Regions from separate parts of the Homo sapiens genome. Here regions 2 and 3 are each linked to region 1. A link means that fine-mapping ties the variant in region 1 to the plasma level of a protein whose gene starts in the linked region. Region 1 holds a variant in brackets. A gene starts in each other region. All regions are shown on their forward strands.

Region 1 (5,000 bases):
GGCTTTGTCCCTGATCAGGGTGAAACAAAAAACAATGGCCCAAAAAATGCAGCAGGAGTGAGTGAGGTCAGATAGCAGAAAGAACTTCTCAATAATAGCTAATGTTTGAGTAATACTTCCTCGATTAGTAAGGCACTATTCTAAGCACTTTAAATTTACCAGTTCATTTAATTCTTGGAACAACAATGAGGCAGATAATAGCTCTATTTTATAGGTAAGGAAACTGAGGCACAGGGAGGTTAAGTCACTTGGCCAAGGTCACATAGCTATTAGCAGCTAGTAAGTGGAAGAGCCAAGATTTGAAGTAAACTGGTTTCAGGAATTAGTTCTTAACTACTAAACAGCTTGTTCTGTTTCTTTCTGTTATTTTTTGTTTGTTGGTTGTTTTTGGTTTTGGTTTTTTTGTTTGTTTTGGCAGGAAGGGGAGGACAGGGCTCTGTGATGCAGTGGGTGAGGATTAAGGTGGGATTGGCCCAGGCCTCTGGCTTCTCTTGCTGCCTGCCCCCTCTCTGGTGTGCGGAGGCTGGTTGGAGACTTGTACCAGAACTTGTTCCTAGCTGGTCCATTCTCAGATGCAGAATAAGCAAAAGATAGCTTGCATGTCTGAGAATGGGACCCTCCTTTGCAAGTAGGCCTCCCCCTGCCACAGGTCCAGGTGTTCCCAGAGAATGGCTCAGGTTGGAGCACCAAGAAGGAAGGCAGTGTGGACAAGCCAGTGGCCAGGCCGGCCTAGCCGCGGCCCCCAAGAGTGGCTTGGTCAGGGAAAATCTGTGCCTCCTGAACATCTGGTGGAAGGTATCTGCCTCAGCTTGCCCTTCCTTCTCCATGTTCAACACTACTACATGCCAGACCCCATGCAGGACCCTGGGCTTCCCTCTAGCGTACCTCCAACAGCCTCTGCAGCTGACCTGGGTGGGTCACAGGCAAGGTGGCTGGGTAGCGCCCATTTCTGAGTGGCTTTCAGGGATGTCCTGTGGACAAGCAAGGGGAAGCTCTGGTGACCCATTTCTTTGCCTCTGGAGTCTGGTCATTAGGGAGGATCCTATGCTGTGCCTAAGATGGGCACGCACCCAGCAGGCTATCTTGGGGCAGGGAGCATTAGGAGCTGACCGTCTCCTCTTACTTACTCTGCTGCCCACTGACATCTCCTAAGGCCTGGAATTTCATCATTGACAATTTATTCTCTTTTTTTCCAAAATTGTGTACATTTTATTTTATGAAATATCATTTTATTTATTTATTTATTTATTTCAATAGGTTTCTGGGGAACAGATGGTGTTTGGTTACATGAATAAGTTCTTTCGTGGTGATTTCTGAGATTTTGGTGCACCCATCACCCAAGCAGTGTACACTGCACCCAATGTGTAGTCTTTGATCTGTCACCTCACACCCAACCTTTCCCCAAGTCCCCAAAGTCCATTGTGTCATTCTTATGCCTTTGCATCCTCATGGCTTAGCTTCCACTTATAAGTGAGAACATACGATGTTTGGTTTTCCATTCCTGAGTTACTTCACTTAGAATAATAGTCTCAAATTCCATCCAGGTTGCTGTGAATGCCATTATTTTGTTCCTTTTTATGGCTGAGGAGTATTCCATGGCATATTTATACTGCAATTTCTTTATCCACTTGTTGGTTGATGGGCATTTGGGCTGGTACCATATTTTTGCAATTACAAATTGTACTGCTGTAAACATGCGTGTGCAAGTATCTTTTTCGTATAATGACTTCTTTTCCTCTGGGTAGATACCCAGTAGTGGGATTACTGGATCAAATGGTAGTTCTACTTTTAGTTCTTTGAGGAATCTCCACACTGTTTTCCATAGTGGTTGTACTAGTTTACATTCCCACCAGCAACATCACTGGCAATGAATTCTTTAGCTTAAATGTTGCCCTCATTCTGTGGGCTTATTTTAAAATTGCAGATACCACTGTGAGAGGTAATAGATTAAGTCCCTGATTGTAAAAAGAATGTGTTTACCTGATACTTTCTGCTCTACAGTAGAGATGTAGACACACAAATTCTGAGTTTGCTAAAGGTGATGTTAAAGAACAGGAGAAGGGCGTACAAAAAGCAGAGGGCTATTGGGAAGCCTCCCTCCCACCCCACCAGGTTCTGTTTGCAGAAGAACTGGCTTCTGGCGTGATTTCTGCCCTTCTTTGACTCTGTTTCCTTGTGCCAGACTCTCCTGCATACTGGGCTTCAGTTTCTCCTTGGAATGATGAGAAAGGTGGGCTGGAGAATGGGGTGTCAAGGCCCCTCCAGAGTCCATGTGTTCTGGGTCTTTAACCACAGGTTTCCGAGAGAGCGCTTTTGCCTACGCCATCGCAGCAGCTGGCGTGGTGCACGCCGTGTCCAATGCGTGTGCCCTGGGCAAACTGAAGGCCTGTGGCTGTGATGCGTCCCGGCGAGGGGACGAGGAGGCCTTCCGTAGGAAGCTGCACCGCTTACAACTGGATGCACTGCAGCGTGGTAAGGGCCTGAGCCATGGGGTCCCGGAACACCCAGCCCTGCCCACAGCCAGCCCAGGCCTGCAGGACTCCTGGGAGTGGGGCGGCTGCAGCCCCGACATGGGCTTCGGGGAGCGCTTTTCTAAGGAC[T/A]TTCTGGACTCCCGGGAGCCTCACAGAGACATCCACGCGAGAATGAGGCTTCACAACAACCGAGTTGGGAGGCAGGTGAGAGCCCCACCCCTGGGTCTGCTTCAAATCTCTTTGCCTAGGGCCTACCCCTTGCCCTGGCCTACCTCTCTTCTGAGGACCACGTTGCTCCCACATGTCACACCTTGGCAATCTTCTCGTTGACCCTGTCTAATTCAACAAACATGCACTGAGTATGCACTGTGCACCAGGCACTGGACTAGGCCTGGGGATACAGGGCAGAAACAAGCCCTGTTGCCCTGGATCAGCATACCACCTGCTGAGCAACCTGCTTCTCCTACTTCCTCGGGTGATCACCCAGGAGAAAGGACAGGGGTGCAGTCAGGACTTCAGGAGTCTAGGCCTGGAGCTCCCATCTGACTCCTCCCCTATAGAGTGACAAGGTTGAACTAGATCATCCCTAAGGTTCCCCCCAATGCTAATGTTCCATGATCCAGTGATCTCTCCCAGCCTTTCTGTGCAGTCTAGAATGAGGGATTCCTGCAAAGTAAGGGGTGTAAGTGAAGTTCCTAGGGGCCACTGGGGAACTGTGTTATGGTGCCTTTCTCCTTTATCCTCTGTCCTCAAATGCTCCTACTACCTCAAGGGTCATTCATTAAAAATAAATTAAATACATACACACATACATAAAAAAGCAGCAGAAGAAAGGATAGTGGTAATAGCCTGCATTTATTGAGTGCTTACTATGTGTTAGGCACTGTCTTGAGCACTTTCCTACATATTAACCTATTTAATCCTTACAACTACCTATGAAGTGGGCACTGTTATTAACCTTATGTTGAGATATGGAAACTGAGGCATGGATTGACCAAGAAGCTTGCCCAAAATGATGCAACTAGTGAGAAGGTGGTCCAGGCAGGGTTCATCCCCAGGCAGTTGACCTTTGAGCCTGTTCTCTTTTGTTCTACAGCGTTGAGTCCACATTCTGATGCCCTGTTGGCTCTCATGGTAGCTCAGCACTGTCCTTTCCTGAGCATTCCATCTCCATCATCCCTTCTTTTGACTCTGCTCAGCCTGTTGAGGCCTTTTACCTGGCTTCCTCTCACTCTGGCTGGCACCTTCTCCATCTCACTCTTCTTTCTCTTGGCCTCTTAGCCCACGATGGGTCATCTTCCTGCACAAAGCTGATTCAGCAATTCCCATCTTGACTTAGAGGCGGGGTAAACTGAGGCACACTTACCCTTGGGTCATGTCCAGCTCCCACCCAGCCTGCCCTGTACAGCTCTTTTCCCAAGCCTCACCGCCATCCCAGCCCATACCAACGGTGCCTCCTCCTCCTCCTCCTCGTTAAACTGGTTAATTAATGGCTGCTGCCCGTGGGAAGCAGATGTTCTGGAGCTGTTGGCCTGGGGAGGCATTGGTCTGGTTCCCACGTGGTGCTGACAGCACAGGCTGCGCATGCACGCTGTGGAGCCCTTTCAGACCTCGAGGGGAAGGCGCCCTCTCTTATGGCCCTACTGCCCAAGTTTAAGGGCCCTGGATCATTGCCGTCCCTGTCTCAGGGTGTGTTTTCGGAGTGGACTGAGGGAAAGGAGGGGATGTGGCCAACTTCTTACGGGGTTTCTGGTGAAAATGTCAAAGGGTTCTTAGTAAGGAGACTCTAGAGCAGGTTGTGAGCTGGGTTGGGGGCGGCTGGGTTGCGTTCCCATAACCACCTCCCTTGGAGGCCTGAGACCTTCTCCACTTTCACTGAGCTGGAGAGCCTGGCTCTCTCCGGTTCCATTCTGTATTAGGTAGAGCTTTGGCCCCTGGTGGCGCTGACTTTTCCTAGGACGAACCATGGGTCTCAGCATAGTGCAGAATGAGCCCCAGGCAGCATAATCGGGGACAGTTTCCCCAGCACTTGTCCCCCTCCTTTGGCTCTCTACAAAGAGATGTAGGGGGAGCTGGAGAGGGAAGGACTGAGAGGGGGACCAAGGCTTTCTGAAACTCACCGAACACCCCTCCACCCACCCCACCACACACACACACACACACACACACACACACACACACACACACACACACACACACACGGCCTGGAGCGAGATACAGCGGGGCCAGCACCCTCCTGCTCCTGGCCCCTACCCCAGGGGTGGCAGGAGAGGGAATTTCCCTGCCTATTTGGGATCCCCCTTCAGGAAGCAAGAGCCTCCAGCCCCAAGGGCCCCCTGCAGCTGCTGGAAAGGCGGGCAGGAGAGGAGGGGAGCCGGCAGGTGGGAATTCCCCCGGGGCCTGGCCTGGTGGGAGGTGGGTGGGAGAGGCAGAGGCAGAGGCAGAAGAGCAGGTACAGAAGTTCTTCTGACTGCCTGGTTGTGGGACCCTCGCTCCCGGCCTCAGCGTTTGCCTCTGTATAATGGGAGT
Region 2 (6,464 bases), not on the chromosome of region 1:
GGGCTGTGCCACCAACGCTGCAGCATGCGTGCCAGCCACACAGCTCGTGTTCCAGTGCTAGGGGAGCGGGTGCTTGGGCAGCGGGGCACTCCTAGAACTATTCCCACAGCAGACGGCGAGCGGCAACTCAGCCATCCTATGCAAGTGAGATCAATACATCCTATATATATATAGGTGGCTATAAATACACCCACCATGATCCAGAACTAAATGCATCCCCAATCTAACTTCCCCTTAAAGAGCCTAGAAGTGCCTGTGGCCTTTCCAGCACCACATTGTCTGAGGGGAAACTGAGGAAGTGATGTGTCGAGAGACAGGTCTTAACTGGCTGTGATTATGGCTTGCTTTCACATTTCACAAAAAATTTACAACTACGAAAACACATGGACTTAGGGCCCTGCCTGTGGCAGAGCCTGTACTGGCCCACACCAACATTCCATGTCCCCCTCCTCCTTCAGCTCCAGAACTCAAGTGAGCTCAACATCATCCATAATAAAAGACCCTGTTTCCAACCTGTTTCCAAGCCTCTGTTGTGGCCGGGCATGACTCTGGCCAGCAAGATGCATGCAGAAAGAATCTTCCAGAAGGCTGCTTTAAAGATGGCATTCTGTTACCCAATGTCCTCAAACCTCCAAAACTTGCTCTTCCTCCTCTTCTCCCTTCTCAGCTTGCACTCGAAACTCCAATTTCTACTACCTTAACCCCTTAGTAAAAGCACCCAATTGTTTCTGTGAATGAAACAACCCTGTATAATGAACCCATTTAACAAGGTTCTGTCGAATAATCGAATACATATATTAAAAACTCATTCATAGAATGGTATAATTCTATCCATTGATACAACTTTCACCTTAGCCAGATCCTTTGCCAGCTACTCATTTTTTTAGGGGAGCGACTCTAGGGTCTTTTTTCATGACTGCTGTGTTACTGGAGTGGGGCTGGGTGGCGTGGAAATCAGGGAATGGGGGAATCAAGGACACAGACATTTGCAGGGTCAAAGAAATGCCAATTTTAGGTCATCGAGCCATTTCCTCATTTCTTGAGTAGTAACGAGATGGTCGTGGGACTGATAGGTGGTATCGTTCGTCACGTTATCGTCCAAACCTCTCCCTCTGATGAGCCCGTCTTGCAGACATGAGCTTCTCAGCAGCGGTGGAGGTGGTGTACCCTCTCACGTGTTTTTATTCATTCATTCATTCATTCATCAAACATTTGTTGACCACTGTGAAACTGATTGGAACAATTCCTACCGCACGTGATGGAAAACCTCTATGGGCCATTGGCTTAAATAAGAGAGATGCTTCTTCTCCTCTGTTGTGAAACAAGCCTGGAAGTGTGCAGCCCAGGGACCAGGCTCAGGGTCACTGGGACCCAGGCTCCCTCGGCCTTGATGTGTCACCTGAAGCCATCACCTCATGGTCCAAATTCGTTGCCCACCTCCAGCCTTCACGTCCACACTCCAGGCAGCAGGAAGAAGGAATGGAAAAGGACCAAAAAGGGGGCGTACCCATGTAACCCCCTCCACCTGGAGTGTGCTGGACCTCATTCTGTACCCAGTCAGTCCTGCTCACCTGTCAGGTTCAGCTCCCCTAATCCATGCATCTCCTTCCCACGACAATGGGGTGGTTATTTGTACAATAACCATTTGTTGCATACAGTTGGCCCTCCATGTCCACAGTGGGTTGGTTCCAGGAAACCCCTGGCCACGCAAATACCGAAATCCGTGGATGCTCAAGTCCCTTATATAAAATGGCATAGTATTTGCATATAACCTACGCACATCTTCCCATATGCTTTATTTTTAATTTAACTTTTTTATTTTTGAGATGAAGTCTCACTCTGTCACCCAGATGCTGGAGTGCAGTGGCGCCGTTTCGGCTCACTGCAACCTCTGCCTCCCGGGTTCAGTTGTACAAGTGATTCTCCTGCCTCAGCGTCCCGAGTAGCTGGGATTACAGATGTCCGCCACCACATCTGGCTGAGTTTTTGTATATGTAGTAGAGAGAGGGTTTTGGCATGTTGGCCAGGCTGGTCTCGAACTCCTGACCTCAAGTGATCTGCCCGCCTCGGCCTCCCAAAGTGTTGTGATTACAGGCATAAGCCACCGCGATGGCCCTCCCACATGCTTTAAATCATCTCTAGATTACTTATAATACTGAGTATAATGTAAATGCTACATGAATAGTTGTTATACCGTATTGTTTAGGAAATAATGACAAGGAAAAAAGTCTGTACGTATTCGTACAGAGAAACCCATCCTAGGCCTACCTACAAGGACCCAGTCCATAGTGGGTTGAACCCACAGCCAGGGAACTCACAGATACAGAGGGGCCAACTGTAATGGGTCTCCGTGAGGGTCTAACTCCGCAAGGGCAGGGACCCTGCTGCTGATTTCACCACTGCAGCTCCACTGCCAGGCAATGGACGGTTGAGCTCCCGTGCAGTGGGCATGGCCCAGGTGACCCTTGACCCTTGCTTGAGTTCTCAGCTTCAGGGTGGTTTTTCCTGGTGGTGGACAGCGCTTCTAAGGAAGATGGGCTGGCTCGAAGGCAGCGGGGGACATCAGGCTTTCTGCTTGATTTCGATTACTCTAATGGTGACCCACTTTGTCTGCTGCACACTGGGCTGTCTTCAAGATGACAGGTTGACAATGACTGCCATTGGGTCATTACTGAGCAAAGAGCCATTAGCACACTGGCTGTGGTTCCAGCACAGTCTGTGCCGGGAGGCAGGTGTCTGTCATCCCAGGTGTGCTGGCCTCATTTGTCTGAAGGAATCTGCCGACCTCAGGAAACCCCAGCACGCCTTCAGGCCACTGCCTTGCTTGTCTGTAGCCTTCCCATGGTCACCGCACTTCCGGGCCAGGGTCCCAGCCAGGGTTTATACCGAGACCCACTCACCCAGACTAAGCGGGAAGCAAGACGGTGGGTGTCATCCCACGTGGAAAAAGAACTTAGGGACCTGGAGGAATCAGGCATGGGCATGTTTATTTTGAATACATGTGTCTAATTATTCAATGGAGCTTTCTTAAATGAATTCAAAATACATGTGAAGATTTGTTTCCAGTTGCTTAATGTCTTTTTAATAAGGAGGCTCTGACCAGATAACCTACCCTGAAATTTCTTTTTCGTTTGTTTTTTGTTTTTTGTTTTTCGAGACGGAGTCTCGCTCTGTCACCCAGGCTGGAGTGCAGTGGCACGATCTAGGCTCACTGCAAGCTCCGCCTCCTGGGTTCACGCCATTCTCCTGCCTCAGCCTCCCAAATAGCTGGGACCACAGGCGCCTGCCACCACTCCCGGCTAATTTTTTGTATTTTTGGTAGAGACGGGGTTTCACCATGTTAGCCAGGATGGTCTCGATCTCCTGACCTTGTGATCCACCCGCCTTGGCCTCCCAAAGTGCTGGGATTACAGGCATGAGCCACCGCACCCGGCCTGAAATTTATTTTTCTTTTTTTCCTTTCTCTTTCCTCACTTTCCTTCCTTCTCTTTTCTTCTTCTCCTTCTCCTCCTCGTCCTCCTCCTTCTTCTTCTTCTTTCTTCTTCTTCCCTTCTCTCTCTCTCTCTCTCTCTCTCCCTCCCTCCCTCCTTCTTTCTTTCTTGACAGAGACTTGCTCTGTTGCCTATGCTGGAGTGCAGGCTTGATCGTGGCTCACTGTAGCCTCAACCTCCTGGGCTCAGGTGATCCTCCCACCTCAGCCTCCTGAGCTGAGTAGCTGGGACTACAGGCACGTGCCATCATGCTTGGCTGATTTTTAAAAAATATTTATTTATTTATTTTTAGTAGAGATGAGGCCTTGCTATGTTGCCCCAGCTGGTCTTGGACTCCAGGGCTCAAGTGATCTATCTACTCACCTCAGCCTCCCAAAATGCTGGGATTACAAGCGTGAGCCACTGCGCCCAGTCTGAAGTTTCTTTGAAAGCAAAAAAGGAAACAAAAAGAGTACATAGGCCCAAATGAAGACAGCTGAAAGTTTAATGTACCTCAAATTCCAGCCCATGACTAAGGGATGGACTTTGAGTCTCTTTTCGAATCCATCTCAAGGATTTAGGTTTAGAGTTTGTGCTCCTTTAAACAGACTAAGAGCCTCTGTGACAAAGTAAATAGAGAAAATAAGTGTAGTCAAGCTCTGGCAGGATTTGGAAGGGGGCCTAACGTGGAAGAAAGGAGAAGGCTGGAATTGACTAAGATGTGCTATGCACTGGGCTGGATTTGTTCTCAGCAGAAAGCAAGAAAGAGCTCTGGGATGGTAGCAGGGCTCCCACTACCACCGGGGGCCAAAGGTTGCAGTATTTCTCAGGTAGCCAAGAGGCACCCATGAGCCCAGCCCCTGCCCACTCCCTGATGTCATCTAGACACAAGGACATGGGGCATGAGAGGACATCATTGTCACTTCTCTGCAGAGTCACAGGAACGTGCCCTCTGCTCCTCCGCCTCTCGGCTGTCCTTCTGCCCACGGCTGGCCCAGACTCTCATGGCGACTCACTGTCTCCCACGCCCCCACTCCCGGCAGGAAACCACTTCAGGGTTTACTGTGGGCTCCGAAATCAGCCTGTGAGTCCTAGTTAGGGTCCCCTGTGCCTGACTCTCCTCTCCCCAGGCTGCAAGAAATAGGGATGACCAGAAGTCAAACTGTGCCCTTGGGAACACCCCACCCCTCACCACTGTCGTGCCAGGAGTCTGTTCCTAAGACCCCTCCCCAAGTCCTGTCTCCTCCTCTTCCTCCCATAAACCACAGCAGACACTCAGCCACCAGGCTGCAGCCCTGCACCTTCTCCAGCAGCCGCTGGCCTTCGCCAGAGTTCTTGAAAGCCCAGTTGTCCTTCCCCAGCCACGTGGAGGCAGACGGATCTCTCCTGGGGGCAGCCTGTAGCTGTCTGTGCAAAGGTTCCCAAGACTAAAGTGTAGAGGACAGGTAAGATGACACTGTCATGATCATCATTCGTCCTGTGCCCTGTGGACATCAACCCACAGATGTGACATCAACCCATCTGATATTGAGCCCAGTGGGTGGGGAGATCCTAACCCAGCTGCTGCTGTTGAGGACTTGGGTGGTGTCTGGCCAGTGGGAGGGGAGGTCAGGCGAGTTTTCAGCAGATGACCCCGTGCTCTTCGGAAGCCCGGAGGTGCCACACTGTACAAGTGTGATGCCTGGGATCCTGTGCTCCCCTGATGCCTGGGAATGGGGTGAAGGAACAGCCTAGGCTTGGGTTCTCTCCTGGGTTGTTTCGGGACTTGGCCCCAGCTCAGGAAGGGTTTGTGGAGGAGCCAAGGAGGGCCTTGTTCCTGTGGGATGTCTTTGCCTTGGGCACAAGGACAGCCTCTTGCTGCTGCTCTGCCCACCGCCCACCCCTTGGCGGCCTCTGGGAGTCTGGGCTGCTCTCCCTCTGGACCTAACCAGTTGCCCAATGGCTGGACCTGCTTAAAGCTCCCTCTTACAACTGGACCAGGCAGCCAGGGGAGGCACTGAGAGGCCGAGCTTCTGAGCTGGTGCCTGTGGATGCTCGACGGTCCCGCAGCTCCCACAATGGGATGGCCAAGCAGACCCTGAGATCCACAGCCCCCCTTTAGTGAAACAGGAGGGAGGTCGCTGGGCACAGGGAGCCGGGAACGCCTGCCCTCCCCGCCATCGACGGCTCCCGAGGCCTGAACCTTCGCTCCAGCCCCAGCACAAGCCGGCCAGGGCGCAGGGCCAAGTGTTGCCCGCCATTCCCCGGGTACCCCATGACCTCCCAGCTGGGGCTGGCTCGGACTGAGGAGTCGTCCCTGCCCGTCACCCTCTGGGGTCTCCAGTGCTGCGGAGCTCAGCTGGCTTTTGCAGCGGTAGGGGCTGGGAGGAGAAGCTGCAGGGAGACCGCAGGCGTGGGACGTTGTGGGGGGTCAGGCTTGCTCTGGGGCTGGGACCCCGGGGGGAGCAGTGGGGTTGACGCCACAGCGATGACTTGGGCCACGGGTCTGGGGGCTCTCCCGCGGGGCGATTGGGCTCTGTCTTTCGGGATTAGGGTCTCTCCCACAGGGTTTGGGGTTCTCTCTGCAGATTTGGGGGAGTCTCTCCCGCGGGATGAGGGGGGGCTCTCCGCCGCACCCGCCTATGATGGCCCAGAGGACCCGAGCTCGGGTCACTCCCGTCGCCCTCGGGGCTCGGCGAGGGTGCAGGAGGCGGGCGCTGAGCCGGTGACGCGACTCCGGGCGGCTCCCGGGTGCGCCGCATATATAGCAGCGGCGGCGGTGGCGGCGGCCACACCGGGCGGCGGACACGTGGAGGGACCCGGCCCGCGCCTTCTGCCCCTGCTGCCGGCCGCGCCATGCGGTGAGCGCCCCAGGCCGCCAGAGCCCACCCGACCCGGCCCGACGCCCGGACCTGCCGCCCAGACCCGCCACCGCACCCGGACCCCGACGCTCCGAACCCGGGCGCAGCCGCAGCTCAAGGTACTACTGGCGCCGGGCCGACCCTGCGCCCCCGG
Region 3 (6,464 bases), not on the chromosome of region 1:
TGAAGACCTTTGTATGTATTTTCTCCCCTGAAATAAAGCTCTTACCCAAGTTCTTCCAGAAAACGAGGGATCACTTTAGGCAGTGGTGATGGCCAAAGTGACCATGAGAACTTGGTTTCTGCACATCCCCACCTAGTCTGCCAGCAGGAACAATCCCGGATCCCCATCCAGCCCTCCCCACAGGGCCAAAACAGAGACAGGCAAGGAACCAGAGAGTTGTGAGTTTATTAAGGGAGATCTAGTGCTTATCCTAGAATCAGCCCTTGCTGCCTATGATCTTCTTGATCCAGTCCAGGTAGCGGCAGATGTTGGTATAGACGCCAGGTTTGTCGGACCTCCCACAGGGGTCTGAGCCCCAGGATGTGATGCCCTGGAGTGCACCATCACACACCAGGGGGCCTCCAGAATCGCCCTAGACAGGGAGAATGAGAACAGCCTTGCATCTGAGATGTCCACAACGTCCCTTTTCCTGCTGTCCCAGCGTTTTACCAGTTCTTTGGCATGATTGGTCCCCTGTAGCCAATGGGGGTAAAAGCATTGTCCCCTGAGACCAGTCAGGACAGGGCTTGGGGCTTCCATGTACAGACAGACATGGTGTCTAAGGGTAGTGGTCAAAACACTGACAGAAGAGGGGAAAGAATGAAATCCCAGACAGGCTTGGTGGCTCACACCTGCAATCCCGGCACTTTGGGAGGCCGAGGCGGTAGATCACTTGAAGTCAGGCGTTCCAGACCAGCCTGGCCAACATGGTGAATCCCTGTCTCTACTAAAAATACAAAAACTAGCTGGGTGTGGTGGTGCACACCTGTAATCACAGCTACTCGGGAGGCTGAGGTGGGAGAATTGCTTGAACTGGGAGGCAGAGGCTGCAGTGAGCCAAGATTGTGCCACTGCATTCCAGCTTGGGGGACAGAGCGAGACCCTGTCTCAAAAAAAAAAAAAAAAGAGTTCTCGAGGGTCCAATCCAGGGAGAAGACAGTAGGGATTACTTGGAGAGGACTGAGCTGAAGTTTCCTCTGTTCCTGGCCAATAGTGAAGGCATCATTGATTGCAGTTGCCAAACATAGGAGAAAGGATCAAGATTCTTATGGACACACACACACACACACACACACACACACACACACACACACACACCATATCCCCAAGAGACCATGGCTGAAATATTTGTGGAAGAGACCACTATCTCTACAGAACAATCCAGAGACTGGCTTTCATGGCAGTATCGCTGATGGAAACGACTCCATTTTTGGCCAATGGGGAAGAAAGCATTGTATTTAGGGACCAGTCATTGGCAAAGGTGGTGGGGCTTCCAGGAAGTGGACAAAGCCAGGGGAAAGTGCTAGGAACAACGAAGTTGCAGTTAGAAGAGAGAGTTATATCTATGACAAATCCCAAGAGAAAGGGATTGGAGCTCATTGAGGAAGCACTGAAGTCAATGGCACCATTTACTCCAGCCAACTGGGAAGACACCATTGTCTCCCAAGGAACCAATCACAGGAGAAGGGAACCAGCCTTGGGATTCTAGCCCGGTCTCAAAGAAAAGTGGCTGACCACCGGGCCGGTGGTAAAGTCGGCACAAATTCCACGATGTAATGCTGGGAACCAGAGAGCAGGCAACTCGTCTAAACTCTAGCCTCAGACTCTCTCCTTGCTGGACATCTACCCCACCCTCTATAGCCCCCAACTCTGCATCCCATCCTGTAGTTAAGCGTTCGAAAGAAAACAGCAGCAGCAATTCAATGCTCCTAATCCCTATGCAGTGTGACTTTCAGAGAGAGAGTTTGGCTTCTCTGAACCTGGCTCCCAATCCGTAGAGATAGGGGTGAACACTCCGGGTGCCAAGTCTTTGGGGTCACTCCCTTACCACCCCCACCCCCATCCAAGCCTTGAACCTCGAGAGGGCAATGAGGGATGTGTGAGGAGAAGGATTTCAGAAATTGCTCACCTGGCACGTGTCAGCCCCTTTGCTGCTGCCTGCACAGACCATGCCATCTGTGATCTGCCCCGGGTAAGCATCCTCACACTTCTTCTGGGGAAAGATTTTTACTTCTGCACAGTTGAGAGTGTCAGGAAAATTCTCTGAGGGGGAAGAGGTTGTAAGGTTCCCTGAGAGAGCAGCCCTTTGCCTCCATCCCTGTCTGGATCTAACCCCCTTTCTTTCCAGGATGTAATGGGGGAGTTTTCCAGCTGCATGGGGGAATTTTCTGACACTGTGCACAGGGGACATCACTTCTCACCACATTAAACGAAGCTGTACTTGTTGCTATTGGGCTTTCTCCATCTAGAGAGGGGCCCTTGGATCTCACGTGTTTTTTCTTACCCTGAGCCATTTTCAAATCAAGGGGCTGGGGGTTACTTGGAGGTGCCCCTTTATGATACCTCTGACCCTCTCTTTCCAGTCTTCCTGCCCTCAGACAACCGGGTCCTCAATCTGTGCTAAATCCTGCTCCTTCCAAGTGTCACCTCCTCCTGGAAGCCTTCCCTGACCACTCGAATTAAAAAATACCATCCCTCCATTACTCCCTATCCTTTTACGCTCCACAATATTTCCTTACAGCACTTTGCCTAATGTTTTATTTTATGTGTATTTGTTTATTGTCTATTTCTCCCACCTAGCTTGCAACTCCATAACGACAAGGACTTTGTACAGTTTGCTCATGGCTGTATATCCAGCGCCTGCAACAGCACCTCAGGCATACTAGGTGCTCAGTAAATAAGAGTTGAATTAATGATTGAAGGTGGAATTGATCTTTTTTATTAACCTCTTTTGAGGAATAGACTTCTCCAAAGCCTCTTTGAGGGGGAAAAACTTCCATCTGGCATCTCTACGTGCCAAAAGCAATATGCTCATAATCTCATTTAATCCTCACAACAGCGCTTTGAAGGAGAGATGCATTCATTCATTTCATTATTTATTCATCAGGTCATCCATTCAACAAATATTTATTGAGCATCTACCATGTAGCAGGCACCATTCTGAGCACTAGGAGAACACAATGAAGAAAACTGATGTAACCTGAACCCTCACGTAGCTAAAAAATCTATTGGTTAATGATTCCCATTTTGCAGATAAGGAAAGTGAGGCTCAGAGATGGAAAGGAATTTGCCCAGGGAGAAAGGGCAGAGCCATAGTTTGAACTGATCTACTTGATTTGCGAGCACGTGTGTTTCCACAGCCGCAAACTGTCTCATCCAAAGCATTCAGAGCAGGAGTGAGGCAGGCAGGGACCTGAATGCTGACTTTGCCACTTCCTGGAGAAGCTCCTTGACTCTCTTAGGTGAGTCCCAATGTTTTCACTGTGAAGGAAGGCGAGGGGCTCTCTGGATTCTGGAGTCCCAAAGGGACAGCTTCATTGGAGGTCCAGATTTTGGGGTCCAGAGTCAAGAGGGAGCTAGGACTGCTGGGTCCTGGGAGAAGAAGGGCCTAGACTCCCGGGTCTGAGGGAAGAGGTGACCAGGGCCCAGGTTTCCTGGGTTCAAGAAGGAGAAAAAGGCCAGGGGCGGTGGCTCATGCTTGTAATCCCAGCACTTTGGTAGGCCGAGGCGGGCAGATCACTTGAGGTCAGGAGTTCGAGACCAGCCTGGTCAACATGGCGAAACCCTGTCTCTACAACAAATACAAAAATTAGCTCGCGTGGTGGCGGGTGCCTGTAATCCCAGCTACTCGGGAGGCTGAGGTTCGAGAATCGCTTAAACCCAGGAGGCAGAGATTGTAGTGAGCTGAGATTGTGCCACTGCACTCCAGCCTGGGCGATTGAGTGAAACTGTGTCCCCCTGCAAAAAAAAAAAAAAAAAAAAAAAAAAAAAAAAAAAAAAAAAGGAGGGAGGTGGGGGAGAAGGTGCTTAGGAGCCTGTTTTCCTGGGCCTCTGAGAAGTCCAAATATCCCAAGTGTGTTAAGATTATATAAAATCCTATACAACCAAAGGTCCCATAGGGTAGTGCTCTCCGCCATACAGGATGGGCTTTTCTGGCCCTGCTTAACAATCTGCTAGTTGGTTCTTTCTCTCACCACTCTTGTTAGTAGTCAGATCTTCGAGGCTTCTCATATGACTCCTGCTTGTGAATCTCAACATCATGATCACTTTCCCTTCTTTGTCTCCCTCTGGGGGACCAAGCTTTGCCAATAGCTTGGGTTCCACTGGGCCAACCAGCTCCTCCTCTCCCTCCCATTAGTGGACAAGCCCACTACCTCGGGGACTGGTGACAGTGCCCCAGCCTGAGACGGTGCACTTCTGGCCAGGCTGGGTGCAATGATCTGCCAGGCTGATGGGCTTCACTTTGGACCCCAGGGATGCCTGGTCACGCAGTTGAAGAAGCATCAGATCATGGTTGTGGTCCTCCACATCGCTGCTGTTGTAGCAGGGGTGTGGGATGGACTGAACCACAGGTATTTCTTGCTCTGGGCCATCTTTATTCTGTAGGCTGTGGTCTCCCAGGCGTACTGTGTATTTCCTGTAATGGTGGGGATAGTTTGGGACCCAGGCAGGGGTATTGCCCCCAGCCCCCTCCTCCTTCAGACCCAGGAGTCCAGTCCTCAGCTCTCTCCTTCCTGAGTCGAAACCCCAGCCCCCTCTTTCCTTAAGCCCCAGCTGACCTCTGCCCCCATCATCCACTCACGGTTTTTTACAGTGGGCAGCTGTAAGGACCCAGTTGCCACCTACAAGGACACCGCCACAGAGTAGTTGCTGGCCCTGGAACAAGGCCGCCTGCCAAGGCTGCGAATGGGGTTGGCACTCATGACCCCCCAGCACCTTGTCCTCCTGTGCCCTGGAGTGTCCTGCAGCAGGAGGGAGAGGGTTGGATCGCCACCCTCTGGGGCAGTGCGAGGGCTGGGAAGGCCACTGTGGGTTCAAATGGACACACGGCAAGTTCTCCGCATACAACTTAGTGAGGAGGTCCAGGCTTCCACACGCTGCCACACGGGGACACTCATTTCAGTCCATGTGTCATCATACAAGAGTCACACACCCAAGAATGCCCCCACATGCTTCCACATGAGTCTACAGGCCCCGAGTACTCCCAGGTGAATCTATGCCCCCAAGCAAGCAGCCCCCAAAGGCTGTAGCTATTCAGACAATTTACAGCATCACGGAACCTACTCCTACCTGCTGCTACCTGTTTCTTGCCTCTGTCCACCCTGAGGAAAGCCCACAGAGGCTCCTGCACCGTATCGCACTCTTCACATCCGTGCACACGCACCCACATAACCCCCGCGGCATTCCCACAGACTCCCCAGCGCCACTGCTGCCTTCAGATCCCTCCCCTCCGGAGGCCTCCGCAACCCTCCTCACCTGCCCAGGCTCCCCCCAGCAAGAGCAGGAACATCCACGTCTTGGCCGCACGAGGTCGGGGGCGTCCCATGGTGAGGTCTGGGAAATGGAGAGGGCGGGGCCGGTAAACAGGAAGGAGGAGCCTGAGCTCCCAGTTCTGGATTTGGGCACTGGGGAGGCAGCCGAGAGTATCTGGGGCTGTTCTGGGCTTCTCTGGAGGAAGGAGGAGGCTGGGGGACTGGATTCCTACATTCCAAGGGAGGGGGGAGTCCTCGATGTCTGGGTCTGAGGGGACAGGGAGCTGGGAGCTGGGACTCCTAAATTAGGGAGAGGAGGAAGCCGGGGTCCAGACTGCTGGATCTCGACAGAGAAGGGCATCTGAGGCTGGGGTCCTGGAATCTGGAGAAGGAGGGTCCGGGGCCTGATGTCTGTATCTGAGTACCTCTGCACCTCACCTTCCAGAATCCAGGGGCGGGGTCACCTACTGATTCGGACCCAGTGGAGGAGGCCCCAGTACTTCAGTTCTCTGCCTGGTACACGATTCTGGAGCCTTTTAACTGGGAATCTCCACCTCCTGCTCCTCCTCCTTCTCCTCCTGCACTAGAGCCTGGGGAGCTTCTGGGAACTGGAACACTGGGTGTGAGTGAGAAGGGGCGGAGGGGATTGAACGTGAAATCTTGAGGGAGGAGGGGCTGGAATCTCAGACTCCTGAGGCTAGGGAGAGGAGGGACTCGGTGCTGAGACTCTACGATCTGAAACATAAAGGGCTGGGGGCCAAGATTTTAGTTCTGAGAGGGGAGGAGGCTGGGGGCCTGGATTCCTGGGTCTGAGGGAGGAGAGGCTGGGGGCCTGGACTCCTAAATCTAAGGGAGGAGGGACTGGGACCTGGGATTTAGGTCTGACCGAGGAGGGGCTGGGGGCCCAGACTCCTGGGTCTGAGGGAGGAGGGGGCTGCTAGGGGCCAGGACTCCTGGGTCTGAGGGAGGAGGGGCTAGGGGCCTGGATTCCTGGGTGTGAGGGAGGAGAGAGCTGGGGGCTGAATTCTAAGTACTTTTAAAAGGAGAAGCTTGGAACCTGATCTTTTGTGGGAGGAGGGGGCTGCTGCCAGTAACCGGGAACCGAAGAAAGGCAGGTCTTCTAGGGTCAGAAACCAGAGGGTGGATCAGGCCCCGCCCGCTGTCCCCTGAGAG

Which allele goes with the higher level. Alleles are on the strand shown, and positions count from the first base shown. The strength of an association depends on the size of the effect and on how common the allele is.
For the plasma level of the protein whose gene starts at base 6,241 in region 2, allele T in region 1 goes with a higher level than allele A (moderate association).
As copies of A replace T in region 1, the plasma level of the protein whose gene starts at base 5,802 in region 3 goes down (weak association).

The links. PIP is the posterior inclusion probability: the model's chance that the variant is causal. The UK Biobank Pharma Proteomics Project read protein levels with antibody pairs (Olink). The fine-mapping took linkage between variants from a reference panel, not from the people measured, so its PIPs are less certain.
Region 2: it holds the start of GAL, and the variant in region 1 is fine-mapped to the plasma level of the GAL protein (UK Biobank, PIP above 0.99).
Region 3: KLK8 starts here. The variant in region 1 is fine-mapped to the plasma level of the KLK8 protein (UK Biobank, PIP 0.92).

Annotation. Positions count from the first base shown.
Region 1 is chr2:218,887,689-218,892,688 of GRCh38, forward strand. WNT10A (Wnt family member 10A) reads left to right here. Exons shown (of 4, transcript NM_025216.3): 3 at 2,296-2,675. Among named protein-coding and RNA genes, the nearest start is that of WNT10A, 9.3 kb to the left of the region's middle. RefSeq lists enhancers at 4,226-4,355, 4,872-5,000, 4,956-5,000. The variant T/A (reference allele first, on the strand shown) is at 2,601.
Region 2 is chr11:68,678,304-68,684,767 of GRCh38, forward strand. GAL (galanin and GMAP prepropeptide) reads left to right here and starts at 6,241. Exons shown (of 6, transcript NM_015973.5): 1 at 6,241-6,429. All of the region lies in intron 2 of LOC107984343 (a long non-coding RNA gene), which reads right to left. RefSeq lists enhancers at 4,960-5,635, 6,312-6,464.
Region 3 is chr19:50,995,803-51,002,266 of GRCh38, forward strand. KLK8 (kallikrein related peptidase 8) reads right to left here and starts at 5,802. Exons shown (of 6, transcript NM_007196.4): 1 at 5,730-5,802; 2 at 5,296-5,373; 3 at 4,622-4,781; 4 at 4,194-4,456; 5 at 1,949-2,082; 6 at 206-412. The coding sequence starts at 5,365. The coding sequence ends at 257.